2 separate regions of the Homo sapiens genome follow, and region 1 is linked to region 2. Evidence: fine-mapped expression QTL. A gene starts in region 2. The other region holds a variant in brackets. All regions are shown on one strand. Distances are from middle to middle. Region 1 overlaps STYX (serine/threonine/tyrosine interacting protein). Region 2 holds the start of GNPNAT1 (glucosamine-phosphate N-acetyltransferase 1).

The links. PIP is the estimated chance that this variant, and not a neighbour inherited with it, causes the effect.
Region 1: its variant is the best candidate, but not a certain one, in a credible set for the expression of GNPNAT1 in whole blood (INTERVAL, PIP 0.66).

What each region holds. Positions count from the first base shown.
Region 1 is chr14:52,730,678-52,745,926 of GRCh38, forward strand. STYX (serine/threonine/tyrosine interacting protein) reads left to right here. Exons shown (of 11, transcript NM_145251.4): 2 at 14,175-14,207. Among named protein-coding and RNA genes, the nearest start is that of STYX, 8.1 kb to the left of the region's middle. RefSeq lists an enhancer at 3,234-3,528. The variant G/C (reference allele first, on the strand shown) is at 6,044.
Region 2 is chr14:52,785,562-52,800,810 of GRCh38, forward strand. GNPNAT1 (glucosamine-phosphate N-acetyltransferase 1) reads right to left here and starts at 6,046. Exons shown (of 6, transcript NM_198066.4): 1 at 5,867-6,046. LOC105370500 (a long non-coding RNA gene) reads left to right here and starts at 6,227. Exons shown (of 3, transcript XR_943867.3): 1 at 6,227-6,765. It also overlaps the pseudogene LOC100288978. RefSeq lists enhancers at 5,273-5,362, 5,443-5,532, 5,640-6,153, 6,154-6,668 and silencers at 5,843-5,922, 6,023-6,242.

The sequences.
Region 1 (15,249 bases), 55 kb before region 2:
GGCTCCAATCCCCACTGAGTTGCTCGTCCTCTCCAGACCCCGCGGAGGGGCAGCGTCTGGTGTACTTACATTTGAGAAGAGGAAAAGCAATCCCTTAGTCCCTAGGCTTGGCATCCAGGACTGACCTGGAGTAAGGTTCCTCTTTTATTGTCAAAGTAACAAGAGAGCGAAGTTGGTTTAGTCTCCTTTTGAGGAATATCTGTGGTGTAAACGATTCACTTGTGGGACACATGGCCCCACATGTGAAATAGACTCGGCGCCTGAAGTTTGGAAGCGCGCCTTCGAAAAGTTTCCCAAAGTTTTTTGTTTGTTTTTAGACAAAGCTATGACCCGCACAACAAAGTGTCTCAAAGCTAGCTCATCTTAATCTGAGAACTCTTAATCAGAAATCTTGACCTTTGGAGGAAAATTAATATTGAAAGTAAAATACTATATACCTTTTCTCCTGGTTTCTAATTTGTGGCTATTTTTACTCCACCTTAGATCCCTGCCTGCTGTTTCTACTCGGATTTTTTTTCATCTGTTGCTAGTTTAACATTTTACGGCATTGCAGACTACTAAATTAGAATTTTCTGGAGGCTAAATTAACAAGACGAAGATACTCAGCTATACTTTAGTAGGATTAAGAAAGAAAATCTAACATCGCTAGTTAAAAATACCTTTAAAGTAGTTGGGAAAAATAAAGCCCTATTTTTAGGAGACCATTCAATTTATTCCGAATATTTATTCTATTGAATATCTTCATTGGAGGTTCACTTTTTTTTTTTTTTTTTTTTTGAGACGGAGTCTTGCTCTGTCGCCAGGCTGGAGTGCAATGTGGCGCGATCTCGGCTCACTGCAACCTCCGCCTTCCGGGTTCAAGCGATTCTCCTGCCTCAGCCTCCTGAGTAGCTGGAACTACAGGCGCGCACCACCACGCCCAGCTAATTTTTGTGTTTTTAGGGGAGACGGGTTTCACCATTTTGGCCAGGGTGGTCTCGATCTCCTGACCTTGTGATCCGCCCGACTCGGCCTCCCAAAGTGCTGAAATTGCAGGTATGAGCCACCGCGCCCGGCCTAGGTTCACATTTTTGTTTGGAGGGCTCTCTTGTGGTATTGATGCTTGACAATTACATTTGTTTTAAGAGTAGAGACTTTGTTTGTGACTATCACTGTTGCAAAATGTAGTGCAGTGGTGTGATCTCGGTTCACTGCAGTCTCGAACTCCCATGCTCAAGCCATCCTTTCACCTCAGCCTCTGGAGTAGCTGGGACCATGCCGGGCTAATTTTTCTTTTTTTTTTTTTTTGTAGCGATGGGTTTTTTCTCCAGGCTGGTCTCGAACTCTTGGCCTCAAGATCCTCCCGCCTTGTCCTCCGAAAGTGTTGGGATTACAGGTGTGAGCCACTGCACCTGGCCCAAGAATATACTCATGGTTTTTTTTTTTTTTTTTTTTTTGACACAGAGTTTCACTCTTGTTGCCCCAGGCTGGAGTGCAGTGGCGCTGTCTCAGCCCACCGCAGCCTCTGCCTCGGGTCCCGGTTCAAACAGTTCTCCTGCCTAAGCCTCCTGAGTAGCTGGGGATTACAGGCGCGCACCGCCAGGCCCAGCTTTTTTTTTTTTTTTTTTGAGACAGAGTCTCACTCTGTCGCCCAGGCTGGAATGATCTTGCAGTGGTGCGATCTGGGCTCACTGCAAGCTCTGCCTCCCGTGTTCACGCCATTCTCCCGCCTCAGCCTCCCGAGTAGCTGGGACTGCAGGCACCCGCTACCACACCGGGCTAATTTTTTTGTATTTTTAGTAGAGACGGGGTTTCACCATGTTGGCCAGGATGGTCTCAAACTCCTGACCTTGTGATCCGCCTGGCTTGGCCTCCCAAAGTGCAGGGATTACAGGCGTGAGCTACCGCGCCCGGCCAATATACTCTTAGAAAACAGGAGGTCATATTTAGGCTAGTTATAAAAATGAATTTATACTTAACATACAATAATGTGAATGAAGAGTATGCTTTTATTTATTTATTTATTTTTTTGAGACGGAGTTTCACTCTTGTTGCCCAGGCTGGAATGCAGTGGCGTGATCTCCGCTCACTGCAACCTCCGCCTCCCACGTTCAAAAGATTCTCCTGCCTCAGCCGCCTGAGTAGCTGGGATTACAGGCGCCCGCCACCACTCCCGTCTAATTTTTGTACTTTTAGTAGAGACGGGGTTTCACCATGTTGGCCCTGCTGGTCTGGAACGCCAGACCTCAAGTGATCCGCCTGCCTCGGCCTCCCAAAGTGCTGGGATTACAGGCTTGAGCCACCGCGAAGGAGTATGCTTTCATATCCTCAAAATGATTCAGTAATTTCAGCACTTAACTGCAAGCAACCTTACAAATAATGTAGAGGAGTCCCACATTCCAGGTGAAGAAATTGTACCTTACTGAAAATAAGTGATGTGCCAAATTAACAACACAGTAGCACAAGACACAGAAGGACCTCGGCCTCCTAATTCATTGTTCTTTTTAATACACTTCAATTCTTCCCTGCCCTAATCTTAAAAATTCTAGTTTAAAATTTTCCCGGACTTTGCATTTAATCTGTTACTGTGTATATCATTATGTATGCCTTATTCCTGCAAAACTGATAAATTCTTGCTGGGAATATATACCTGTCTTTTCTGTGTGGGACTTGAAAACACACTCTTTTTTTTATGCTACCAGATGTGTGGGGGTTTTTCCATACCAAGCAGTTTTCCAGCAGGCATGAACTGAATGTCCCATAATTCAATTCTGACACATATGTACCTGAAGTTAGTCAGATCCCACAGGTTAATGGCTCAGTCCCGCAAGGCTGCCCCCAACCTCAGATGGTAATCACAAGTAGTAGGTTGTCACCTATACACTCCTGACTGACTGTAAATCAGGGTTCCCGTTACTCCCTCCTTGGTTCAGTTAACTTGCTAGAGTGACTTACAGGACTCAGGGAAGTACATTTACGGGTTTATTATAAAGGATACTACAAAAGATCAGTGAACAGCCAGTAGGAAGAGATGAATAGGGCAAGGTATGGGGGAAGGGGCACACCACCATCCCAGTGTCACCAGTAGAGTCATGATTGCAAGCTGTCCAGGTTCTTGGCGTTTTGAACAAAGAATTGGACAAAACTCCAAGCAAAGAAAGAATGAAGCAACAAAAGAACAAAAGCAGGGATTTATTGAAAACAAAAGTACACTCCACAGTGTGGGAGCTGCCCTAGCAGCACTCCCCCCCGACCCCCGCTGCTTTACCGAATCTTCTTGGGTCCAAATACCCCCTAGAACTTTCCCATTGGCCATTCCATGCTCACCTCATGTAAATGAAGAGGTGGCTTGCAATTGGTCTGATTGGTTGCCAGACCCACCCCCACATCAGTCCGCTTGGTTGTGGACAGCGACCATTCAGTGGCTAGAGTGAAGTTACAAAGTTGCAAACGAAGATTCCACCCGCAGTCAGTCTGATTTGTTGAGGACAGCCAATTTCCCGTCTACTGTGCAGAAAAGGTAGGTGGTTTGCAACGGGAGTAGCCTCTGGTCCTTTTGTTACTTAGGCGTGGAAAGTTAGGGTTTTCCCTTCAAGTTAGTTCTGGGAAGTCGGGGTGAAACAGCCTTAGATTCCCTGCCTCCAGACCCTATTCACCTGCCTCACTAGCACCTCCAGTGTTTTCATCCAGAAGCTCAACAAATCTTATTCAACGGTTTTTATAGAACTTCATCTCCATCCCCTCCCATAGAGGTGTGTGTGTGTGTGAGGCTGAGAGTTCAACCCTCTTGTCACATGGTCTTTCTGGTGACTGGCCCCACCCTAAATCACTTCATTAGCATAATCAGGTTTGATCAAAAATAGTGGCTCATAAATAACCAAAGACACTCCTATTAGAAAATTCCAAGAGTTTTAGGAGGACTGTGACAGGAACTGGAGAGAAAGACCATGTATTTCATATTATATCACAGGGACAGAGGTAATGGTTAAAGCTAGTGGATAATGATGCAAGTATTGTCTGCTGAAAGCCAATTCGTTCCGTATTTCTTAATATTGCATGTTTGGTATCTTTTGGTTGCAAGCAACAAAAACGAATTTAAGAAAAAGAAGAAGTAATTAAATCCGGCCGGGCGTGGTGGCTCACGCCTGTAATCCCAGCACTTTGGGAGGCCGAGGCGGACGGATCACGAGGTCAGGAGATCAAGACCATCCTGGCTAACACGGTAAAACCCCGTCTCTACTTAAAAAAAAATTAGCCAGGTATGGTGGCGGGCGCCTGTAGTCCCAGCTACTTGGGAGGCTGAGGCAGGAGAATGGCATGAACCCGGGAGGCGGAGCTTGCAGTGAGCCGAGATCTAGCCACTGCACTCCAGCCTGGGAGACAGAGCGAGACTCCATCTCAAAAAAAAAAAAAGTAATTAAATCCAGAAGGGTAGTGGTGCAGCTAGTTTCAAGGATTTGACCAAACCCAGGTATTATAAAGCATCAGAACTGCCTTTGTCTCTCATGAGTTCTTATCTCTACTTTCTCTCGGAGTCTCTGCTTTCTCTCTGGCTTCTCCAAGATGTGAAGCTTGGCCATCTGGGGTCACACCTTTATGAGCTTGGTTATTGAGGAATAAAACTGAACACTTCCAGCTTCTGTGTTTGAAATCTAGAGGAATTGCCCAATTTAATTCATGTTCCCACACTTTGGATCAGTCACTGTAGCCAGGAAAGGGCAGATACAATGAGGGGCCCCATCTAGGTCATATCCCTAATTCCTTGGCTAGAGGAGTGAAGTTTATTGTTGGTAGCCCTCCCACCAAAACCATAGGAACATTTCCACAGGTAGAGGGTACTTTCTGGGCTGATAAAACTATACATAGGGGCCACATAAATAAACTATTAAATAGGAGCATATAGTTATTCATAATAAACTGACTAATAAGCACTGTTAATTTTCTAATCTCCAGTGAGATAATGTAAAGTGTCAAATGGTCTTAAGTAGTTAGAGTGATCAGCCAGCATTGTTTCTTTGACACAGGGAGCACTACCTGGAAATCCAAATTACAGACCAAATTTAATAAAAACTGAATTCAAGCAGAGAGTTCAGGGAATGCTTTTAATGTTAATGTGATCAAGCTATGATAGGTTGATGATTCTGTCACCTCTACAAGAATATTACTTTCACGTTTCTTGAAATATTGGTATTCTTTGTATAGGACAGTGCTAACAAAAATTTAGATCAGTCAGTTTGTGAAAAGATTGTTACTTTTTTTGTTTAAAACTTTTTCATGAATTTCCATTGTTTTGAAGATGAAATTTAAACCCTTGACATTATTTCCAGGGTCCTGTATGGTCTGACATCTGCATACCTCTCTAACCTCATTATGAGCTACTCTTCTTGCTCCTTTCTCTGTAAGCCCTAGCCATATTTATCTTCTCTCAGTTCCTGGAATGCTTTAATTTCCACCCCCCGCCTTCAGAGCCTTTATGTTTGCTATTTTCCCCTGCCTTGGCTGCCAGCACCTTCCTTACCCTCACCTAATTAACTGCTTACCCTTGGGTTAGATCCCACTTTAGGCAACATTTCTTCAGAGAAGCTTTTCCTGTTTGCCAGTTTCTCTAACTCCTTTCCTCATCCTCTAGACTGGTTCAATTCCCCAGCTACTATGGCACTTGGTACTTTAATACTTACCTTTGTAACATTTAACAATTTTTGGTCATTGTCTATTTTCCATTTAGACTGAACCTTTCATAAGAGAGCTTAGATATTAGGAAGAAGGAGTAGCTGATAGTACCAATTTTTAAGCAAATTGGTTGTAGCTGGGGCTATTGGTTTTATAATTTAAAAGTTAATGTTTTATCTTCTCTTCTGACAGAAAGTGAAATATTTATTTCCATTGCAGTTTAGCAACTTTCCATGTTTCCCTTTCCATTTTTCTTGTGAATCCCGTAGTACAGGATCAAAGATAGGAATTATTTAACATACATGGCTGAGGATTCCTTTTCTAGCTCCTTTATTTAGAATGGTGCTTTTTAACCCTTACTCTAGAGTAAGGAATTTTTTAAAAATACTGATGC[G/C]TGGACCCTACCAGCACCTATTGTAGTTTAATTTATCTGAATGAAGCTAGATGATTCTAATGTTCAGTCAGGTTTAAAAATTGCTGGTTTAGAAAATATCTTACTTGAGTACTCTTCTGCCCCTCCAGTCCCTGCCCACCTTCTCTTTTTATTTGAGTGAAACATTTTCTTTTCTCCTTTGATTTAAGCAAAGCTCAAGCTTGGTGTGGGAATGAAAGGAAAAGGACTTTGGAGGGATTTACCTATTTTTTCTAGGAGAGAAAGTGCAATACTAACTTTTCTGTTTTGTGGAATGTCCCAGTGCAAGTCTAGTATTCTGATGTTTTTTTTCTTCCCCAAACTGTTGCCCCCCACCTCCAGCCTATGTACAATTTGTGTTTTATTTTAGTATTGTGTATATAGGATTCAGCACTATCCTCAAATGTATGAACATATCCCCTGTGGATAAGGGGGGACTACTGTATTTGTAAAAGTTCATATTTCATATTTCAATGCATATAAGAATTATTTTATCTAATGGTTACAGTCTATATCCTTCATTGATGTGTTTATTTGAGGGTCTTTGAACATTTTTGTAACTTTTCTCTATCCAAATGCAGTTTTATAGATCATTTTTATGGAAAGGAAGGAGATAATTCGGAAGGATGTTTTAACATGTGGTACTTTCTACCTCATGTTGATCGAAAGATTTTCACTTGTGAATTAATTTGTCTCAGAATCATGGTGTTTCACAATAGAGGGTTATTTTGGTTTATCTGGCTTGCCTTGGTTTGGTTAATGTGGTTGAACTGCTTGGCTACTCATAAAGTTTGGGAAATTGATTTCTACTAATTAATTACAATAGTAACTTAAAATAGATCATTGCTGGTGATATGGAGATGCCTCCATTAATACCACGGTTTCTAAAATGATAGATTTCAGGAGTAGTGTGAGCAGGCTGAGATTAAGAATTAAGTGTGATAGTGGCAAGACTTGGTTATTAGACGTGTGTTCAGACGGATGTGTGGTAGAAGAAGACTATGAGCATTCAGACTTAAAATCTTGGTTAGTAAGATCCATAGACAGGCAGGGTTTTTTTGTTTGTTTGTTTGTTTTAACAGGTTGGAGTGCAGTGGCAGGATCTCAACTCACTGCAAGCTCCGCCTCCCGGGTTCACGCCATTCTCCTGCCTCAGCCTCCCGAGTAGCTGGGACTACAGGCGCCCGCCACCATGCCCGGCTAATTTTTTGTATTTTTGGTAGAGACGGGGTGTCAACCATGTTAGCCAGGATGGTCTCGATCTCCTGACCCTGTGATCCACCCTCCTTGGCCTCCCAAAGTGCTGGGATTACAGGCGTGAGCCACTGTGCCCGGCCAACAGGCAGGTTTAAGGTTTGTTCTGTAGGTGGTAATCTGGGTTAGGGCAGCAAAGAAGGTGGATTCTGAGATCAGCATCTGATGATAACACCAGGAATAGTTCCAAATGAACTTTTCTGTGAGAGAAAGCTTTCTAGGTTTCAAAGGATCCATACCTATTGCAGTAATTACTAATGTTCTCTGAAGAAGGCTTCTTATCTGTCCTGTGACTAGGAATAATTTTTCATTCCCTCCTACTATACAACTTGCTTTTCCCTCTTATAATATCTTCCATATATATATATATCTCAAGAGAGTCTTTCATGTTGTATTACATATAACCTTATGGAAAGCTCAAAAGTTCTTTGAAGCCTCTTGTTTTGCTAAAAGGTTCAGGTAAATTTTGCATTCTATCCCATATGTGCCTGTTTGTTTTAATATAAAAATTGTTTAAATTAGTAACCAGTGAAAATACTGTTTCTCCCTAAAGAATTTTTTTGATAAAATTGATACTTCAGTGGCTTTGAGTGTCTTTTGGCATATTGCCAAATGAAGGTGTTGAGGAAATGCCACTCCAAAATATGACACCTTGATATATTGATTACTTTAAGTTGGAAACACTTGCAAAGTAGCAAATGCAAAGAAACACTTTCTCTGAACTCCTGTTACCTACCTAAGGACAGATCCTCCAAAAGAAGCTCAGTTTGCTCCTAGGGAGTTTGATCAACCAGGGAAGATTGTCTCTTATCACTGGAGAGGAGAGTAAAAGTCAGCACCACACCCAGACAAACTGACACAAAGTATCATCTATTATTATTCTAAGGGCCCATTTATCTTTCTCCAGAATTGTTCTTCTAAATTGCCTGTATACCTCTACCCCCATGCTATATAAAGGGTATATAAACTCCTAAATATCACTTTTTTTTTTTTTGTATACACGTTTCTTTCCTGTGATACCCCCATGCACATAATGAATCTGTATACCTTTTCTCCGTTTAGTTTATTTCATAGACTGGTTTGAAATATCACGGATTTTGTTTGTTTTTGGTATACACTTTTTAAAAATACCACTTTTTTTTTTTTGGTATACACTTTTCTTTCCTGTGATACTCCCATACACATAATAAATTTGTATACATTTTCTCCATTTAGTTTATTTCATAGACTGTTATCGAATCCTGATGGTAGAGGGAAAGTCTTCCTTGCCTTACACAAGTATTTCCCAGAATATATTTACACCATTCCTTGATATGTGTTGCCCTGTTTTTTTTTCTTTAATTACACAAAATTTAGTGATTTCACTTTAGATAAATTCAAAAGTACTCATTTCTTTAATTGATTTTCTTCTTTATCACAGCTCTGACAAGTTGCTTCAGGAAGATAAGGCTGGCTGTTAGACTACTTGAGAATCTTTTAAAAAGAAAAAAGTCAATAACATTTAGTGCAGTAGATCTCTGAAATGCATCTATTTTGTGCTTATTCTGTGTCAGGCACTGTGCTTATCATTAGGGGTACCATGACTAAAAAGAGTATTTGGCCTAAAGTCTTTAAAAACTGTTTTCTTTTTCCTTTCTTTCTTTTTTTTTTTTTTTTTTTTTTTCGTTGAGATAGGGTCTGTCTCTGTTGCCCAGGCTGGAGTGCAATGGCACCATGATGACTCACTGCAGCCTCGACCTCCCAAGCCCGAGTGATCTTCCTGCCTCAGCCTCCCAAGTAGCTAGGACCTCAGTCATGCACCACCACCGCACCTGGCTAATTTTTTAATTTTTGTAGAGATGAGGTCTCCCTATATTGCCCAGGCTGGTCTTGAACTCGGGCTCAAGCTATCCTCCTGCCCCAGCCTTCCAAAGGGCTGGGATTGCAGGTGTGAGCTACCATACCTGGCTAAAAAACTCATATATAAAAAGATTACCATAACACATTGGTAAGTTAAAGAATCTAGGCTGGGCGCGGTGGCTCATGCCTGTAATCCCAGCACTTTGAGAGGCCGAGGCAGGTGGATCATGAGGTCAGGAGTTCAAGACCAACCTGGCCAAGATGGTGAAACCCCATCTCTACTAAAAATACAAAAATTAGCCAGGTTTGGTGGTGGGCGCTTGTAATCCCAGCTACTCAGGAGGCTGAGGCAGATAATTGCTTGAACCTGGGAAGCGGAGGTTGCAGTGAGCTGAGATCGTGCCACTGCATTGCACTCCAGCCTAGGCGACAGAGCGAGACTCCGTCTCAAAAAGAAAAAAAAAGTATCTAGTAAACAATTACATTTCCCTCATTGCTGGCTTAGAAATTACATGCTTTATTTCTATTCTGTTAATATCCATAAATTAGTCATTATTTTATGCAGCCAATATTTGTTTAATTGTAACTGTATGTTTGCCGTAAAGTTCATTCTTACATTGAAAGACTGTATAGTATATTGATTCAGAGAATGAACTCTGGGTTCAGACTCTCTGGATCCAAAATCAAGTTACTTAGGTTCTCTATGACTAAAATAGACAGTGATAGTATCCCTTCTTCAAAGAACATTTTAACTTTTTTTCTTTAAAGATATTTTTCCGAGCATATATTCTTAATTAACAGTTGTTTTTGTCCTGCCACTATGAATGAATTATTTGTGTCCTCTGGCTTCTGTTCATGCAATTGAGAAGTCAGTGTCCATCTGATTGTCCTTCCTTTGTGTGTAATCTGTCTTTTGTCTAGTTGATCTTTTTTAATAAAGGTAAAATTTATATAGTGTAATGTACAAATAGTAAGTGTGCAGTTCATTGAGTTTTGATGAACATACACTAATCCACCCCATCAAGATACAAGAACATTCTATTAGCATAGAAGGTTACATCTATTTCCAGGCATTTCCTCTCCCATTCCACAATAGGAAACCAGATTTCTATCAACATAGATTAGTTTTCCTTGCTCTTGAACTTGATACAAATGGAATCATGCAAATGGACTCTTTTGTGTGTGGCTTTCTTCACTGAGCATAATGTCAATGAAATTCATCCATGTTGTTGTGTTTATGAGTACTTCGTAGACTTTTATCCCTGAGTACTACTATTCCTTTGTATGAAGAGACCATAGACATTTGAGTTCTTTGAGACTACAATAAATAAAGCTGCTATAAATATTCATGTATAAGTCTTTGTGTGGATATATGTTTTTATATATATATATATATATATTTTTTTTTTGGTAAAGCCTAGGAGTGGAATGGCTAGATATTATAATAGGGTAGGTGTATGTTTACCATTTCATTTTACATTCCCACCAGCAATGTGTGAGAGTCCCAGTTGCTCCACATCATCACCAGCATTTGGTGTTGTCAATTTTTTTAACTTTAACCATTCTAATGGTAGGTAATGATATCTTTTGATTTTACTTTTGAGTTTCGTGTGTGTGTGTATGAGAGATGGAGTCTCACTCTGTCACCCAGGCTGGAGTGCAGTGGTGCAATCTCGGCTCACTGCAGCTTCCACCTCCCAGATTCAAGCAACTCTCCTGCCTCAGCCTCCCGGGTAGCTGGGACTACAGGCGTGCCACCTCCATGCCTGGCTAATTTTTATATTTTTAGTAGAGACAGGGTTTCACCATGTTGCCCAAGCTGGTAAACTTCTGAGCTCAAGTGATCCGCCTACCTCAGTCTCCCAAAGTACTTGGTAATTTACAGGTGTAAGCCACCGCACCTGGCCTATTCACTGATTTTTAATTTCAATTATACTTCTTATTTCTACATATTCTGTGTTTTTAAAAATCAATTTCTTAGTCTGGTCATATTTTGATACTCTAATTTCTTTAAATTTTTTATATTTTTCGTTATTGCTTATAATATCTGCAGTTTTGTAAGTGTAACTCAGTTGTTTCTGCTTCCTGTGGTGGCTCATTTCCTGTTTTTAAATTAGTTTTTGATTGTGAGCTTGTTGGGACTTTATCTGTGTGAATTATTTCTGATCTAGGTTTAAGGTGTGTTTTTCTAGAGAATATGCATTTGCTTCTTCCAGGAATCCAGGGATGCAATCTACCCAGGACCACTTACATTAAATTCTCACTTGGCCTCACAAAAGTAACTGAATTCTAACCCCAAACTTGAGTGGATGCCAGATTGTGGTTAGGAAGACCCCACTCCACCACTACCAATACCTACCCAGAGCCAAAGCTAGGAAGGACAAGAGTACTCACTTCTGTGGGATGAGTTGAGTTTTTGTTTTTCTTTCTTTCCCTAGTTTATCTTTCACTGAGGATGTTGCCTTTGGGAGTTCTAGCTTTTTGGTCTTGATCTGAGTTCGACTTTGAGCAGATCATAGACTTTGTCTTATGTTTACAAGTACGTTTCCACTTAAAATAAGGCCGTAGTGAAGATGTAGAACAACTAGAAGTCCCATACATTGCTGGTGGGAGTGTACAGTGGTTTTACAAAACTTTTGGCAGTATCTAGTAAAGCCAAACATAGGCCTACCCTGTGTCAAAAGACAAAATTACAACAAATTTAGCTTAAAAATCTAACTCACTTTTATTAGTGGTTCATGAATCAGGCAGTGTGTCATCAAAAGATTTAGAAAAGGCATTTCAGTGTGCTGAGCAGAGGAAGTTGAATTTATAGGCAAAATCTAGCTAAATAAAGCAGAAATGAAACAAAAAGTGGATTGGTCATTTCAAAGTTAGTTTCTTTATAGTATTAAAACACAGGGGACTTCCTTATGCTGGCTCAGGATAACTGGCCTCCTTCTGATTGATTGCTATGAATCTTTTGATTTTTTTTTTTTTTTTGAGATGGAGTTTCACTGATGTTGCCTAGGCTGGAGTGCAATGCCACGATCTCAGCTCACTGCAACCTCCGCTTCCAGGTTCAAGCGATTCTCCTGCCTCAGCCTCCCAAGTAGCTGGGATTACAGGCTCCCGCCACCATGCCTGGCTAATTTTTGTATTTTTAGTAGAGATGGAGTTTCACCATGTTGGCCAGGCTGGTCTCAAATTCCTAACCTCAGGTGATCCACCCGCCTCAGCCTCCCAAAGTGCTGGGATTACAGGTGTGAGCCACCGCGCCCGGCTTTTTGATTTTTTTAAACTGTCATTACTCGGGGTTTATAGTCTACTACTATATTGCTGAGAACAGTTTTCAAGATTAAAAATAAAAATGTTTTCTGTTTCTCTTAGTTAAAAAAAAAAACCTGTCTCTCATTGTAGGATTATTATTCTCTCTTTTCATTATAGATGTATACTATTTCTACCTTCTGTGTTAAAAATACTTTTCTGGGCCGGGGGCAGTAGCTCACTCCCGAAATCCCAGCACTTTGGGAGGCCGAGGCGGGCAGATCACGAGGTCAGGAGATCAAGACCATCTTGGCTAACACGGTGAAACCCCGTCTCTACTAAAAGCACACAAAAAAATTATGGCGTGGTGGTGGGTGCCTGTAGTCCCAGCTACTCGGGAGGCTGAGGCAGGAGAATGGTGTGAACCCGGGAGACGGAGCTTGCATTGAGCCGAGATCGCGCCACTGCACTCCAACCTGGATGACAGTGTAAGACTCGGTCTCAAAAAATAAAAAAATAAAAAAAATACTTTTCTGACTTAGAGAATCTGGGTGAAGGGTAAATGGAATTCCTTGTACTATTTTTGCAACTTTTCTATAATCCTAAAATTGTTTCAAAATAAAAGGTTAAAAAAATATTTTCCAGACTACTTCAGAAACCTAATTACTAATAATAATTCTGAGTTTTAAGCAACCAACTTAGAAACTTTTGGAATGCAGTCAACCCACTGACAAATGAGGACTATCTGTACTATAGTATTTTTTTAGACGGGGTCTCAGTCTGTCACCCTAGCTGGAGTGGTGGGGTGATCTCAGCTCATTGCAACCTCTGCCTCCCAGGCTCAAGCGATCTTCCCACCTCAGCCTCCTGTGTAGATGGGATTACAGGCAGGCTCCACCATGCCCAACGAATTTTTTTGTATTTTTAGTAGAGAAGGGGTTTCACCCTGTTTCCCAGGCTGGTCTCAAACTCCTGAGCTCAAGCAATCTGCCTGCCTCGGCATCCCAAAGTGCTGGGATTACAGACATGAGCCACAGAGCCTGGCCTTTTAGTCTATTTCGATTCTTCATTTCAATTCACTATACTTTTTTTCTAAGTTTTAAAATATTTTTTATCTTTTACCATTGACATTTTGTGTTGTTTTACAGCTTCTTTATATTGGTCTGCATTCCAAAGACAAAATGAAGTCTCTTATGTTTTGTGATATGTGTTAAAATAATTGAACTAGACAAGAATGTTAGGCCCAAGTGAGATGAAGGAAAGGCTCTTTGATAAGCATTTGGCATTTTAGATCAGAGATGGCAAGTACGTATGACATAGCATTCTTCTTTTATCCATTTCAGATATTATTTGTTGATCAGACACTCTTCTTCCTGTCTTGGACCACACAGTGTTTTAGGTATCTGCTGTCAGTTGATTAGAGTTGGCATGAGAAACAAAAAAAATCTATTGGCATCTCTGACTTAGAAGATCAGTTTTGGGAGAATCTTCTGGAATATCTATTCTATTCTTAAGTTTAATGAGTAATTTCATCCATTTTATGAAGTAACATAACAATTCTGGAAGCCTAGTTATTTAAAGAATGCTTTAAGCTTTGTTTCTTGTCACTTCAATTTTCAGATGTTTGTGAAACCAAGTCTGCTATTTTAATAAAATGTTCTTAAAGTATAATGTAACTTTAAAAAATCTACATACTTGTGTGTCACATCTTTAGCCTTTAATTGGGTGACTTTTTAAATGTTATCTACTTTTATTCTTATGTTTTCCTTCCCAGGAGTGGACCTACCCTATGAGACGAGAGATGCAGGTATGGCAACCTTTTCTTTGTTCAAACCAACCCATGTTATTATCATAATAAGAACCTTAGTTTATAGGATTTGAGACCTGCTGATTTCATGATCTGTAGGTTCATCATTATGTATTTTAAATAATTATTTTAAATATTTAAGGTTAATCTTGGATCTTAAAACGATGGGAAATTAGAAAGAGGAACGTAGTAATAGGTGTATGTGCTTAATGAGTCACTTTCTCTTGGTTTTTTTTTTGTTTTTTTTTTTTTTGAAACAGAGTTTCGCTCTTGTTGCCCAGGCTAGAGTGCAATGGCACGATCTCGGCTCACCGCAACGTCCACCTCCCGGGTTCAAGTGATTCTCCTGCCTCAGCCTCCCGAGTAGCTGGGATTACAGGCATGCGCCACCACACCCAGCTAATTTTGTATTTTTAGTAGAGACAGGGTTTCTCCTTGTTCAGGCTGGTCTCACACTCCTGACCTCAGGTGATCCAGTGACCTCAGGTGATCCACCCACCTTGGCCTCCCAAAGTGCTGGGATTACAGGCATGAGCCACCGTGCCTGGCCAATGAGTCACTTTCTTTTTCCTCACGTGAAAAATTGGATACTTTCTTTGTATTCCTTTTGAAAGCAGTTTGCTTTCTCTGTTTGTCTAGATAAGTTAGGGAGAGTTGTCTGTACAGCAAATAAGCATTGTTCATTTTGTGTCCGATTTTTAATCAACTTCCACAATTAAGTCTTCTAGAAGATCAAATTGAATACTTTCAGTTTGGAATGAATTAAACGATAGCTAACCCTCATAGCAGTTCATTTTCTTTTGCATTTCATACCATTTACCGTCAAGTCTGTTTGCCCCAGGATTAAGCAGTATCTTGTTCCTGGGAATCCCATGACTTCTAAAAATCTGTTACTTTTCTCTCTTAATGAAAGTTCACTTTGAAAAAATAGGTGAGTACCTATGAGGCATTTTACTTGGTGTTAGGAGGAATGCAAAGATGACTAAATGTAATTTCTGCCCACAAAAGCCTGGTGGAAGAAATCAGTTTTATATACAAATAA
Region 2 (15,249 bases):
AAAAATACAAAATTAGTCGGGCGTGGTGGCGCATGCCTGTAATCCCAGCTACTCGGGAGGCTGAGGCAGGAGAATCGCCTCAGAACCTGGGAGGCAGAGGTTGTGGTGAGTTGAGATTGCGCCATTGCACTCCAGCCTGGGCAATGTAAGAGTGAAATTCCCTCTCAAAAAACTTACTGGGCATGTAGCCTTTTTTTTTTTTTGAGATGGAGTTTCGCTCTTATTGCCCAGGCTGGAGTGCAATGATGTGATCTTGGCTCACCACAACCTCCGCCTCCCAGGTTTAAGCAATTCTCCTGCCTCAGCCTTCTGAGTAGCTGGGATTACAGGCACCTGCCACCACGCCCAGCTAGTTTTTTTTGTATTTTTAGTAGAGACGGAGTTTCGCCATGTCAGCCAGGCTGGTCTCAAATTCCTGACCTCGGGTGATTCGCCTGCCTCAGCCTCCCAAAGTGCTGGGATTACAGGTGTGAGCCACCATGTCTAGCCACATGTAGCTTTTTTTTTTTTTTTCAATGAACCATGAATAGAAGAAAATTGATGAACAGGCTCAAATTAATTTTTTTTTTTGGCATTCTCAGAAATACTTTACCTTGGCTATGCTAGATATACACTGCAGGATTTTGTTTTCACAGCAGATTTTCTAAAAATCTGTGGTATGGACCAGGCATGGTGGCTCGTGCCTTTAATCCCAGCACTTTGAGAGGCAGAGGCAGGTAGATCACCAGAGGTCAGGAGGTCAAGACCGGCCTGACCAACATGGCGAAACCCTGTCTCTACTACAAATACAAAATTAGCCAGGTGTGGTGGTGGCCACCTGTAATCCCAGCTACTTGGGAGGCTGAGGCAGGAGAATCACTTGAACCCAGGAGGTGGAGGCTGCAGTGAGCTGAGATCACACCATTGCGTTCCAGCCTGGGCAACAAGAGTGAAACTCCGTCTCAAAAAAATTAAATTAAAATTAAACTGTATAGTGTTTCTCAGTTGCATCTAAGCAGCTTAAAAATAGCTGGTGTTTTTCATGCTATTGAAAAGTGATCATGATATTTCCCCCTCTTTTTTGAACATTTAGAAATGAGCAGGTTCTCACTAGTTGTAATGTTTTAAAACTGAGACTAAATAACAGAGAAGTAACGATAGGAAGGATGAAAAACAAATCATACAAAGCATAAAACTGGGGCCAGGGGGCTTCTGTGCAGCACAGAATTGCTAAAAGAAACAGATGCTTCCCAACAATTAAAAGTTGAGTATTCCTTATCCAAAATGCTTGGGACCAGAAATGTTTCAGGTTTTGGATTTTTTTTTTTTTTTTTTTTTTTTTTTTTTTTCAGATTTGGGGATATTTGCATATACATAATGAGATATCTTGGGGATGGGACCCAAGTCAAAATTCATTTGTGTTTCATATACATCTTATACAGATAGCACAAATATTTTACACAATATTTTAAATAATTTTGTGCATGGAAAAGTTTTTGTACATTATACCAGATGTGGAATTTTCCACTTGTGGCATCATGTTGGCCCTCAATAAAGTTTCAAATTTTGGAGTGTTTTGGATTTTTGGATTAGAGATCCAAAAAAAGCAGTCCCCAACTTATTTCTATATCCAGTTAAAGAAACCATATTTTAATGAGAGAACAATTTGCCCAATAACCTAACCCCCAATTGTTCCTTATTTCATAAGTCACAGTATGCTTTAGGGCAAATATTCTTAACTTTTCCTTAAAGATGGATAATAAGTTTCTGCCTGTATAATCCTATGTAACTATATAAGCAATGCTGCAATATACTAGTTATGGGAAGGTAGTGTGATGTGATGTAACAACAGAAGTTAACACTTGCTCAGCACTTCTTATGTGCCAGACTGTTGAAAGAGCTTTACTAATTCATTTATTTCAACCATCCTACAGGTTAGGAGTGGTTATTATCTACATTTTAACAGATGAGAAAATGTTAAGTAACTTGCCCAAGGTCACAAAATTAGCGGAGCCAGGATTTAAACCTAGGCATAGAAAGAGCATGAGCTTTGGATTCATACCTGGTGTTCAAATGTCAACTGTGTGATATGTACTACGGTAATTAAGCTTTTAGAATCTAGTTTCCTCATTTGTAAAATGGAGATGAAATTACTGGGAGAATTAAATGCATTACTGTATGCAGTCATGCACTTAGCAGTGCCTGGAATACTGCAAGTACTTAATAAGATATATGCTAGTTAGCAATAAATTTAAAATTAAAGTTTATAAATTCTTGTTCATTTTTTTTTACCTTTAATTCATGAATCAGGCACTGTGCTGGTTACAGGAACTACAAAAAGAATGACAGGCTCTTACGTTTATGTTATACCAAAAGTTAGCATTCTTGGGTAGAAAAGAACGTAGTTTATAATGTAGACTGCTGAGAGGTCCCCCCAGCCACACACACACAAAATGATTCAAATTATGCTGCATACACTATACCCAGTTCTAACAATATTAAGGAAAATATAGAAATTGTGATGATCAAGCAGTCATTTCAAATTTAACAAGTTTAATAGCCATTCAAAATAGGTTTTTTGTTTTGTTTTATTGTTTTGAGACAGGGTTTTACTCTGTTGCCCAGGCTGGAGTGCAGTGGTGCAATCATAGCTCACTGCAGCCTCAAACTCCTGGGCTCAAGTGATCCTCCTACCTCAGCTTCCCACATCAGCCTCCAGAGTAGTTGTGACTACAGGCTCATACCACCACGCCTGGCTAATTTTTGTATTTTTAGTAGAGATGGGGCTTTGCCATGTTGGAAAGGCTGGTCTTGAACTCCTGACCTCAAGTGATCCTCCAGCCTCAGCCTCCCAAAGTTCTGGAATTACAAGTGTGAACCAGCATGCTCAGCCAAAACAAGTTTTTAATAGATGAAATTGAGTCCACGTGTTTTAGTGTTTTGTCTAAATTGGACCCTTGAGGTTTTTGTGTGTAATCTCATCTGAATGGTAGGTAGCAACATTGTTTTTCAGGTATGTAGATAAACAGGCTAAGTATTAATAAAGTGAAATGTGTACAGTATTAAAAATGTAAATTCCTCGAGGCAGCACACTATTTAAACATTTTGGTCTTGCTATTAAACATATAGTTGTAAATACAAAGTTCAAAGAAAACTCAAAAGAGAATTTAAATCAACCTTAACCACATTTAACTAGATTCCTTTTTCCTATAAAGTTGTCTGTGTTTACAATAAAAATGTGGTCTAGAAAACATGAAAAATAGGGTTAATAATTTTCATGAGAGGGAAGAAGTATACAGGAAAACAACTAGGATTATGAAGCCCTTAAATAATGAATTTTAACCAGGAAATACTAATATTTTCTTGTACTTTTCTTTGATGAGACAGTCCTTTTCCACGAATGATCATAAAAATAAATAATATTGGCTAACACTTATTGAAAACTTTCTATATGTTAACTCTTAAAAATACAATGAACGATGTATCATTATTATCCCAATTTTACAGATAAGGAAGCAGGCACAGTAACTTGCTCAAGGTTAGAGTGCCAATAAGAACAGAGTGAGGATTCAAAATGAGGCAACAGGGCCAGCTTCAGAAGCCCCTGACCTGTGCCGTTACACAGGGCCCTGCACTTAAGTTTGATACCCTGCTGCCACTGTTTTGAAGTTCTTAATTTTTTAACAAGGAACCCTGCATTTTAATTTGGATTACCACAGATTACGTAGCCAGTCCTGCTAGGTAGTATGACTTCAGACTCTGCTCTTAACCATTACACTGAAGATGCACTAGAGTAGATAAATTCCCTATCTTACTGTTGTACAAGGGTTAAAAATTAAGTCATAAGCAGCACTTAGAACCTACATTTGGAAAATGGGAATCAGACTAGTCAAAATACATTAAACAAAGCATTACAGATTGAAATAAGAATCTATTAACCAGGCAATCAGAAATTAACATCAAAAATTTTTTTATGAGCTATTCTACAAAACAGAGCCATACTGAAGGCCCACTTTAGCTCACTCTGTCCTCAAACCGTAAAATTCTGCTGGTGCCCAACTAAGGTACTGGGCAAAGTGAAGCAAGATATGACTTGAAACCTGGTTCCAAGGGGGTTTAGAACATAATTAAATAAGTAATTTTATATAAATAATCTTTTAGCATCTTCAGGTGCCCAGATATTGCAAAACTAGGAAATTTCTGCGAATAAAATTGCACAGTTGTGTGAAGCGGAATCTCATCATATCATTAGGTTCTTTAAAGTTTTTAGATGAACTTTAAACACTAATCCTCCTTAAGTATTCCTCAGAACCTTTTCTGATTAACTGCTAAATTAGCAGGCGTTTAGAAGACCCGTTTAAGCCTAACCCTAGCCCAATAATGCCTAGTGAATGAATAACGAATAAGACTTACCTGTAGGTCACATTTCAGAAAATCCAGAAGGACAAAAAAAAAAAAAAAAAAAAAAATTCCCAAACTGCCACAATATCGCGGAAAGCATACACCAAATTCATTTTTACTAGTCATCACATCAGTTGAATATTTTTTCACTCAATTGAATATTTTTTAAACAAAACTTCAACTATTTGGCGTCTGAGCCTCTGTATCAGGTTGGAATACGAATGGGGAGAGAGGCTGCTGCTAGAAGCAACCAACGGAGAGCAACAAGTAATAGACACCGGAGATGAAGATTTTAAAAGTCGATCTACAAATTTTAAAAAATACAATCTAAGGCCAAATCTAAACCAGCCTATGTATTTCTCAAGAGCTCCTGGGGAACCTTCTAAGTACAGGTGAATGGGGGAGGGGCGGACTTCGGATTCCTTTATATTCATTTTATAACAATTTCGATAACAAGAATCCATTCTGAATCTATTCCGTTAAAGATTTTTAACACACCTGGCCATATTTATTAAATTGTGTAACTGCATGAATGTTCAAAAGTATTTTCTGATAGTTTGACCTTTACAATCTAGGCGTTATTCCCAGTCTACCGATGAGGAAGCTGGAGCACCTGGAACTCCCAAGACTTGCCCCTTAGGTAACACAGCAAGTAAGTGACTTGGGGCTAGAATCCTCGTTTTCGCATCTTGAGCTCGATTACCATCCTCAACAGACCCCAATCTTTACATCATCATACCATACAGCTAGCGCTCTCTCCCCTATTTAGCAAATCCTGCCTAAATTAATTTCTTAAGATCCATTCTAGGATTCGTTCATGAGGGATTATCCTAACAAAACGAATCCTATAATCGCCCGTTCAATTTTGTATGAAAATTTTAAATTAGTTTGGCTTACATAAACATCAGCTCCCGCAACAGAAATCACAGTACAGTACTCGGTATTTCTAGGGGTAGGAGCCTAGGAAAAAGAGACAAAGAATGTCCCTCTGTACCCTGGGGAAAGCGCCGACCTACTCGGTGCGGAGGTGGTCTTCGGAGCAGCTGCCTCAATGGCTCCGACCACCGTGGGATGCGCCCGGGAATGGGAGAAGAGAAGGGGCCTGGGACGTTCGTGCCCATTCAAAACCGATGGCTGCAGAGAGCGCGACCAACTGTCTCATTTCCCACGCCAAAGTCTGGGGAGCGAAGTTCCGACCCCAGTCCCAGTTCCAGCCCTGCCAGGCCAAGACCAGCGTATGGCCGGACCGCTGGCCATCATCCTTAACCTCTGCTCCAGGCGCGCGTGCGTTCAACTTCCTGGGAACCGCGCTCCACACCATGTGCACCCAGCTGGCGAGGATTAACGCCCAGCTCCTCCACACAACACCCCCGGGGGCCTGGCCGGGGCACCAGACACACCTGTTAGATAAACCTGAGGGCAGGCCCGCCCCAGCCCCCAGGACACACGGTCCTGCTCTCGCGCCCCGGCCCCGGTCCCTCCTCACCCGTAGAGGCCCTGCGGTCGGCGCTCCTAGCCAGGCGCGTCGGACTCTCCCCCACCAGTGTGCACAGCACCGGATCCGGATCCGGCTTCAGCGCCAGCCCCACCTCCTCCTCCACCGCCCGCGCCACAGTTGGGAACCGCGGCCCAGACGTGGCAGCGCCAACGCCTCCACCTCGCCTCTGCCCCCTCACGCAGGGCCGCGCGCAGGCGAGCGGAGGCGGAGGCCAAGGCGCCACCCGCCCAGGCCCGGAGAGCGAGGGGCGGGGCCCGGAGAGCGGGGGCGGGACCAGGAGGGCGAGGGGCGGGGCTCGGAGAGCGGGGGCGGGACCAGGAGGGCGAGGGGCGGGGCCTGAGGCTCGAGTCGCGGCGCCTGGGGCGGTGGCCGCCGGACCAAAGCTGGCCTCTCCCGGCTCCTCCTCCTCGCTCCCCAAGGCCTTTCCCACCGCGTCATTGTCTCGGTTTATCTGCAGATACGTCTACCTAGCAGTCAGCCCAGCAGCGTAAGTGGTGACCAGTGTGGGCCTCTTTGATCCTGAGACCGAAGGCTCGGCCACTGGCCCTCTCCATTTGTTCCTTGTTGCCCTCCCTTCATGATTCAATCCATTAATTAGGACTTTTCCTACCAGCTGGCAGTTCAGAGCTCCGCATCCCCAGGCCTCTGAGTCACAGTTCCTGCCTTCATGAAACTAGGAGTTGGGGCCACTGCATTCTACTCCTTCGGGACTATTGTTTCATTTCTCAGTCCCTCAAACCCTTTATTGGATGAACATGGGGTTAGGACAGCGGTTCTCCACTGCAACAGTTTTGCCTCCCAGGAGACATTTGGCAATGTATGAATCATTTTCAGCCTCTCATCTGGGGTGAGATGTCATTGGAATCTACAGATGGTGGAGGGCACAGGTGAGTAGAGGCCGGGAATACTGCTTCACGCCTTACAGTGCGCAGGACAGCGCCGCACAACAAAGAATTACCTGGCCTGAAATGTCTGGAGTGCTGAGGTTTAGAAACCTTTCGTTAGGAGAAGAAAAGTGACTTTTTTCAGAGCCCCATTTCTGAAGTGTCTTACCTAAGTAGCACTTTGTCCCTATTTTAACAGATGAGGAAACAGAGGTTCAGAGATGTTACATAATTTACAAAAGTCTCATAGCTAGTAGCTCCCCTTCCTTGCCTTGTACCATAATTTTCAATTTATTGAAATCGCAAAGTATTTTATTCTTAAGCAATAGTATTCAAAGAACCCCATAGATCATATACCAGAAATCATATTTTTTGCTCATTTGTGAGATTTAAATTTCAGTTAACTCCTTTACTGATTTATGCTTTCTCAGAACTTCAAACATCAGTGAGTTGATGGCATCCATATCTCTGTTTTTATCTCTGTTTTTACACCCATACATACAAAAGAATATATAGGGCATGAGCAGAATGTGGTGGTATGCATCCGTAGTCCCAGCTACTCCAGAGGCTGAGGCAGGAGGATCACTTGAGCCCACAAGGTTGAATCCAGCCTGGACAATAGAGCAAGACCCTGTCTCTAAAAAAAAAAAAAAAAAAAAAAAGAATATGTAAGGCATAAATAAAATAAACACTCATGGCTGGGCGTAGTGGCTCACACCTGTAATTCCAACATTTTGGGAGGCCTAAGCAAGTGGATCTCTTGAGCCCAGGAGTTTGAGACCAGTCTGTGCAACATGGTAAAAACCTGTCTCTACAAAAAAAAATACTGAAAATTAGGCAGGCATGGTGGCATGTGCCTGTAGTCCCATCTACTCAGGAGGCTGAGGTAGGAGGATAACCTGAGCCCGGGAGGCAGAGGCTGCTGTGAGCCATGATTGCAAGACTGCACTCCAGTCTGGGCCACAGAGCAAGACCCTGTCTCAAAACAAACAAAAATTTAAAAAAATGCTTATGTACACACCACTAATCTTAAGCATATGGCCCTCCCCGTTTTTCTTATCAGACTTCTGGTCAAATGTTTTCAGTGAGTTTATCCTGTACAACAAACTGCTGTATGTTTTATAAATTAGCAAAAAGTGAAACATAAGCAATTCTAAAATCACAGAACACAAGGCTTGTAAGAGGTACCCCCAGAGATCTCATACTTTCCACATATACTCCTCCTTACCCACATTGGGCCATAAGAACCCAATTTCTCCTTAATAGACAAGGTCGATTACTCTGGCCAGTACAGTTAACCCCTTTCTTTGCCTGTAGGTTCACTTGGCAATGAGGAGCCCAAGATAACCAGGAGACAGTCTCAACTTCTGGTTTAATGGAACCATTGGTATGTCCTTTGGTTGATTTTTATTTATTTTTCTAGATTCTTAGAAGAAATGCTGCATTCACCATTATTCTTTTTTTTTTTTTTTTTTTTTTTTTTTTTTTGAGAGGGAGTCTTACTCTGTAGCCCAGGCTGGAGTGCAGTGGTGTGATCTCAGCTCACTGCAACCTCCACCTCCTGGGTTCCAATTAAGCAATTCTCCTGCCTCAGCCTCTTGAGTAGCTGGAATTACAGGTGCGCACTACCACACCCAGCTAATTTTTGTATTTTTAGTAGAGATGGGGTTTCACCATGTTGGCCAGGCTGGTCTTGAACTCCTGACCTTGTGATCCACCCACCTGGGCCTCCCAAAGTGCTAAGATTACAGGTGTGAGCCACCGCGTCTGACCAACAACAATATTCTCATTGGCACAAATAAGGCTATTACGTGGATAAACATAGATGTCAGTGATTGAGTTGAGAAGTGATTCAGGAACGTTGGCCTGAATGAGAAGTTTAAGAATACCTTGGCCGGGTACCATGGTTAACACCTGTAATCCCAGCACTTTGGGAGGCCAAGGCGGGCAGATCACGAGGTCAGGAGTTCAAGACCAGCCTGGCCAACATAGTGAAACTCTGTCTCTCAGAAAAAATACAAAAATTAGCTGGTGTGCTGGCACATGCCTGTAGTCCCAGCTACTCGGGAGGCTGAGACAGGAGAATCACTTGAAACCTGGGAGGCAGAGATTGCAGTGAGCCGAGATTGTGCCATTGCACTCCAGCCTGGGCAACAGCGAGACTCCATCCCCCCCCAAAAAAGAATACCTTAGCCAATTTATTTCATTTATATTTTCCTCTTAATGTTTGCACAGGAATTAGATATAACAATCCATGTCTAATTAAGTATAGAAGAGTTGTTTCACTAGGTATTACAAGTTCCAAGTGATAAGATATTATAATTTTAAATTAGCCACATTGTTTCTTTCTTAGTGGTATATAAATTAATGGCGTGTCATACAATGGATGTGTCTAAGATTGGATGAAATATGGTACAGGCCAGGCACGGTGGCTCACGCCTGTACCATTCCAGCACTTTGGGAGGCTGAGGTGGGTGGATCATGAGGTCAAGAGATCGAGACCATCCTGGCCAACATGGTAAAATCCTGTCTCTACTAAAAATGCAAAAATTAGCTGGGCGTAGTGGCACACGCCTGTAGTCCCAGCTACTCAGGAGGCTGAGGCAGGAGAATTACTGGAACCCAGGAGGTGGAGGTTTAAGTGAGCCGAGATTGCACCACTGCACTCCAGCCTGGCAACAGAGCGAGACTCTGTCTCAAAAAAAAAAAAAAGGTAATATGGTACATACTTAATATGGTCTTAAAGTTATAATTCTCTGTTATGGTTTTAATGTCCCCTCCAAAACTCACATTGAGATTTAATTGCCATGGTACAGTATTAAGAGGGTGAGGCCCTTAAGGGGTGATTAGGTCATGAGAGCTCTTCCCTCACATAATATGGATTAATGCTGTTACCGTGGGAGTGGTTTCCTGATAAAATGGATGAGTTCAGCTCCTCCCTGTCTTTCTTTCTCTTACACTACTCCTTCCATGTGATGCCTTCAGCCATGGGGTGACCCTCAACAGATACTGGTACTATGCTCTTGCACTTCCCAGCCTCCAGAACTGTGAGCCAAATATGCTTCTTTTTATTATGAATTACCCAGTCTTGGTATTCTATTACAGTAGTAGAAAATAGGCGAAGACATTCTCTAAACATGTTTATAAATTATTTCATTTGATCCTCATATGAATCCTGTGACATAAGGTGGGCACTATTATTTCCATAATGCAAGTGAAACTCAAGCAATTTTCCTTTTCTTTTTGAAACAAGTTCTCACTCTGTTGCCCAGGCTGGAATATGGCTACACAATCTCAGCTCACTGCAACCTCTGCCTTCTGGGCTCAAGCAATCCTCCCACCTCAGCCTCCCGAGTTACTGGGACTACAGGCGTGCAGCACCACACCCAGCTAATTTTTTTGTATCTTTATTAAAGATGAGGTTTCACCACATTGCTCAGGCTAGTCTCGAACTCATGACTAGCCATGAGTTCAAGCCATCATGTGCCCACCTCAGCCTCCCAACTGCTGGGATGATAGGCATGAGCCACTGTACCCAGCTATAATTTTTCTTTTTTTTATGAGTGAGGCTGTGTGCCTGTTCTCATGCTGCTAATAAAGACATACCTGAAACTGGGTAATTTATAAAGAAAAAGAGGTGCTCATGCCTGTAATCCCAGCACTTTGGGAGGCCGAGGCAGGTGGATTACCTGGGGTCAGGAGTTCAGGACCAGCCTGGCCAACACAGTGAAACCCCATCTCTACTAAAAAAATACAAAAATTCACCGGGCGTGGTGGTGGGTGCCTGTAATCCCAGCTACTCGGGAGGCTGAGACAGGAGAATTGCTTGAACCTGGGAGGCGGAAGTTGCAGTGAGCCAGGATCATGCCATTGCACTCCAGGCTGGGTGACAAGACTGAAATTCCGTCAAAAAAAAAAAAAAAAAAGTGAGCTGGGATCATGCCATTGCACTCCAGCCTGGGCAACAAGAGTGAAATTCCATCAAAAAAAAGAAAGAGGGGCCGGGTGCGGTGGCTCATGCCTGTAATCCCAGCACTTTGGGAGTCTGAGGCGGGTGGATCACAAGGTCAGGAGATCGAGACCATCCTGGCTAACACAGTGAAACCCCGTCTGTACTAAAAATACAAAAAATTAGCCAGGCGTGGTGGTGGGTGCCTGTAGTCCCAGCTACTCGGGAGGCTGAGGCAAGAGAATGGCGTGGACCCGGGAGGCAGAGCTTGCAGTGAGAGGAGATCGCGCCACTGCACTCCAGCCTGGGCAACAGAGCGAGACTCTGTCTCAAAAAAAAAAAAAAAAAAAAAAAAGAAAGAAAGAAAGAAAGGCAGAAAGAGAGGAAGAAAGAGGTTTAATGGACTCCTAGTTCCACATGGCTGGGCAGGCCTCACAATCATGGTGGAAGGCAAAGAAGGAGCAAAGTCGTGTCTTACATGGCAGCAGGCAAGAGGGCATGTGCAGGGGAACTCCCCTGTATAAAACCATCAGATTGGCCAGGCATGGTGGCTCATGCCTGTAATCCCAGCACTTTGGGAGGCTGAGGTGGGCAAATCACTTGAGTTCAGGAGTTCGAGACCAGCCTGGCCAACATGGAGAAACCCTGTCTCTACTAAAAATACAAAAATTAGCCAGGTGTGGTGGTGGGCGCCTGTAATCCCAGCTACTCAGGAGGCTGAGGCAGGAGAATCACTTGAACCCAGGAGGTGGAGGTTGTAGTGAGCCGAGATCGCGCCACTCTACTCCAGCATGGGCAACACAGTGAGACACCATCTCAAAAAAAAAAAAACCTATCAGATCTCATGAGACTTATTCACTATCACGAGAACAGCATGGGAAAACCCACCTCCATGATTCAGTTACCTCTCACTGGGTCCCTCCCATGACACGTGGGGATTATTATAATTCAAGGTGAGATTTGGGTGGGGACACAGAGCCAAACCATATCACTTTTTTTCTTTATAGACATTTGAACTTAAGAACTCAATAAAGCTGGCCACAGCTCACGCCTGTAATCCCAGCACTTTGAGAGGCCGAGGTGGGCGGATCACTTGAGGCCAGGAATTTGAGACCAGCCTGGCCAACATGGTGAAACTCTGTCTCTACTAAAAAATACAAAAATTAGCCAGGTGTGGTGGTACGCGCCTGTAGTCCCAGCTACTCTAGAGGCTGAGGCAGGAGAATTCACTTGAACCTGGGAGGTGGAGGTTGAAAAAAAAAAAATAACAACCTTGAAATATTACAGAAATATAGAACAAAGAGTGATCAGTCTCCTTATTTCTGCCTTCAAAGATAACCACCGTGTTAGTCCGTTTTCACACTGCTATAAAGATACTACCTGAGACTGGGTAATTTATAAACAAAAGAGGGTTTAATTGATTCAGTTCCACATGGCTGGGGAGGCCTCAGGAAACTTACAGTCACGGTGGAAGGTGAGAGGAAGCAAGGCACACCTTCACAAGGCAGGAGGGAGACAGAACAAACAGGAAACTGCCAAACACTTTCAAAACCATCAGCTCTCGTGAGAACTCCCTCACTATCACAAGAACAGCATGGGGGAAACCGCCCTCATGGTCCAATCACCTCCCACCAGGTCCCTCCCTCAACACATGGGGGTTGCAATTTGAGATGAGATTTGGGTGGGGACACAGAGCCAAACCATATCAACCACAGTTAACAGCTTGATAGATGTTTCTTCAGACTGCCTGGGTTTCATTTTCAGCCCTTCCATTTAGCTGACCACCTTGGACAAATGATTTGTCCTCACATTGTCCCAGTTTTCTCATGTCAGTGTAATAGTACAGGCTTGCAGAGTTTGATGAAGGTTTAATAAAATAATATATGTAAAGTGTTCAGCATTGTGCCTGACATATAGTACGTGCTTAATAAATGCTGGTTTGTGTACATATATTTGCATATAGTCAGAATAAGTCTGCAATAACAAACAACCTCCCAAATCTCTGTGGCTTAACACAATAAGTTTTTTTTTGTCTTACACCAATTGTTAGGGCACTTTCTCCATGTAATCACTCAGGGATAGAGGCTAATGGCAGTTCCACCCTATTCTGGTCAAAATCTGAAATACATGACATCTTTAGTGACCAGAATAGTGAAAAGAGACTGGAAAATCATGCATGGAACTTTTACTGCCTGATCCCATAATTGACATACTTCCCTTACGCTCACAATTTATTTGCCATGTTAGTAATTGTAACCCTGCCTAGCTACCAAGTTAGCAGGGAAATTCAGAGTAGAGAATATTTGGTGACTGCTTAACCTCTGTCACAATCCACATGTTTTTTCCCTAGCATCGTATAATACTGTCCAAACTCTGTTGTAATTTTTTTTTTTTTGGCATGTGACATTGCTTTCTTTTAATTGAAGTGAAGGCAAAACCTGGTCACGTTCAGAGATTAACAGCCTCATCCAGGTGGTCAAGTACAATTTTGTCTTTCTTGGTTAACCAGGTCCTAATTTCAACGTATTTCCATATGTTCTTTAAAATCACCTGAAACTGCCCTGCGCAGGCTCACACCACGGCTCTGTACCAAGGGCTTGGACCCGCCTGCAGCCAGACGGCATCTCACTAGATGTCATCATCATCAAAGAGATCTTCAAAACCATTTAAAAAGTCTACATGAACAGCCTTTTCATTAGTTGCCAAGTCCATCAAGAACCTGGTGCTGCCTCCCGCCTCGTCCAGGTCCACGTAGGGCCCGGCGCCCTTGGAAACATCTCATCCACGGCCAGCTACATCTTGGGCTGCGGCGCTCTAGGCCCACTTCCGGCCACGGGGCCGCTTCCTATTTTTCTATTTTTTAACAACTCCCCATATTAATATTCATTCACTCATTGACTGTTAAGCCCTTCTATGTATCAGGAATTGTTCTAGGTACTAGGACATATCAGTTAAGAAAACATTTGTTAATCCTTGCCTTCATGTAGTTTATTAGATTGTGAACAGATCAGAAAAAAACATGTAAAAAATTATAAAATGTTAGGTGATCAAAGTTATGGTGAAAAACAGGAAAGGGAAGAGGCAGAAGGAGTGTTGAGGTGCAGTGTTAAATAGAGTAGTCAGAGAAGACCTCTCTGAAATGTCATTTGAGTTAAATTCTGAAAGGTGTGAGGAAGTCAGCCTTGTGACTATGTCTAGAGGAAGAGCATTCCAAGAAAATAAAACTGTCAGAGTGGCTTGGTGATGCCTGAAAATGCATTTTACTATTTTTGTACACGTCTGAAATTTTCCATGAAACAAGTTAAAAAAAAAAGTAGCCCTGGTAAAAGGGAGGTTGAAGCGGGCGGATCACTTGAGGTCAGGAGTTGGAGACCAGCCTGGCCAACACGCTGAAACCTCGTCTCTACTAAAAATACAAAAAAAAAAATTAGCCGGGCGTGGTGGCGGGCGCCTGTAATCCCAGCTACTTGGGAGGCTGAGGCAGGAGAATCGCTTGAACCCAGGAGGCGGAGGTTGCAGTGAGCTGAGATTGCGCCACTGAACTCCAGCCTGGGTGGACAGAGTGAGACTCCATCTCAAAAAAAAAAAGAAAAAGAAAAAAAAAATCTTACCAGTGTACCTCCTCAGAAATAATGTTTTAACTTGTTTGTTACTCCACAACTTCCTTAACTCTGGCTCCAGACATTGCTGGTTTTTACTGCATCGTTTCTCATATGCTAATTTCATCTTTCCAATTATTTGCTAAATTCTTAATCATGTCTTATCCTTTTTTATTCCCCTCTTTGTATCATTTCCTTCAAAGTGATTGGACGTATAATAAAATATCTATTAAAAAATAGTAAATTGAGAAGTAAAACTTAGTGATGGCTTTACTAAGTATGTCAGTCTCTAATTCTTATAGCATTTTACTATGTTGAGGATGTAAAAAAGCAGATTGCAGAAAATATTATATCTACAAGCAATTTAAACGTTTTTAGCATTAGGGCCGGGAGCAGTGGCTAACGTGTGATCCCAGCACTTTGGGAGGCCAAGGCAGGTGCATCGCGAGATCAGGAGATTGAGACCATCCTGGCCAACATGGTGAAACTCGTCTCTACTTAAAAAAAAAAAATACAAAAATTAGCCAGGAGTTGTGGCATGCGCCTGTAGTCCCAGCTACTCGGGAGGCTGAGGCAGGAGAATCACTTGAACCCAGGAGGCAGAGGTTGCAGTGAGCTGAGATTGCACCACTGCACTACAGCCTGGGCGATGGAGGGAGACTCTGTCTAAAAAAAAAAAAAAAGGTTTTTAGCATTAAAGAGCTGGTACTGCCAGACAGTATGATTTACACCTGTAATCCCAGCACTTTGAGAGCCTGAGGTCTCAAGAGTTTGAGACCAGCCTGGGCAATACAGTGAGGCTCCATCTCTACAAAAAATAAAAAACAAAATTAGCCAGGCATGGTGCTACAAGCCTGTAGTCCCAGCTACTCAGGAGGCTGAGGTGGGATTGATCACACTACTGCACTCCAGCCTGAGCAACAGAGCAAACCCTGTCTC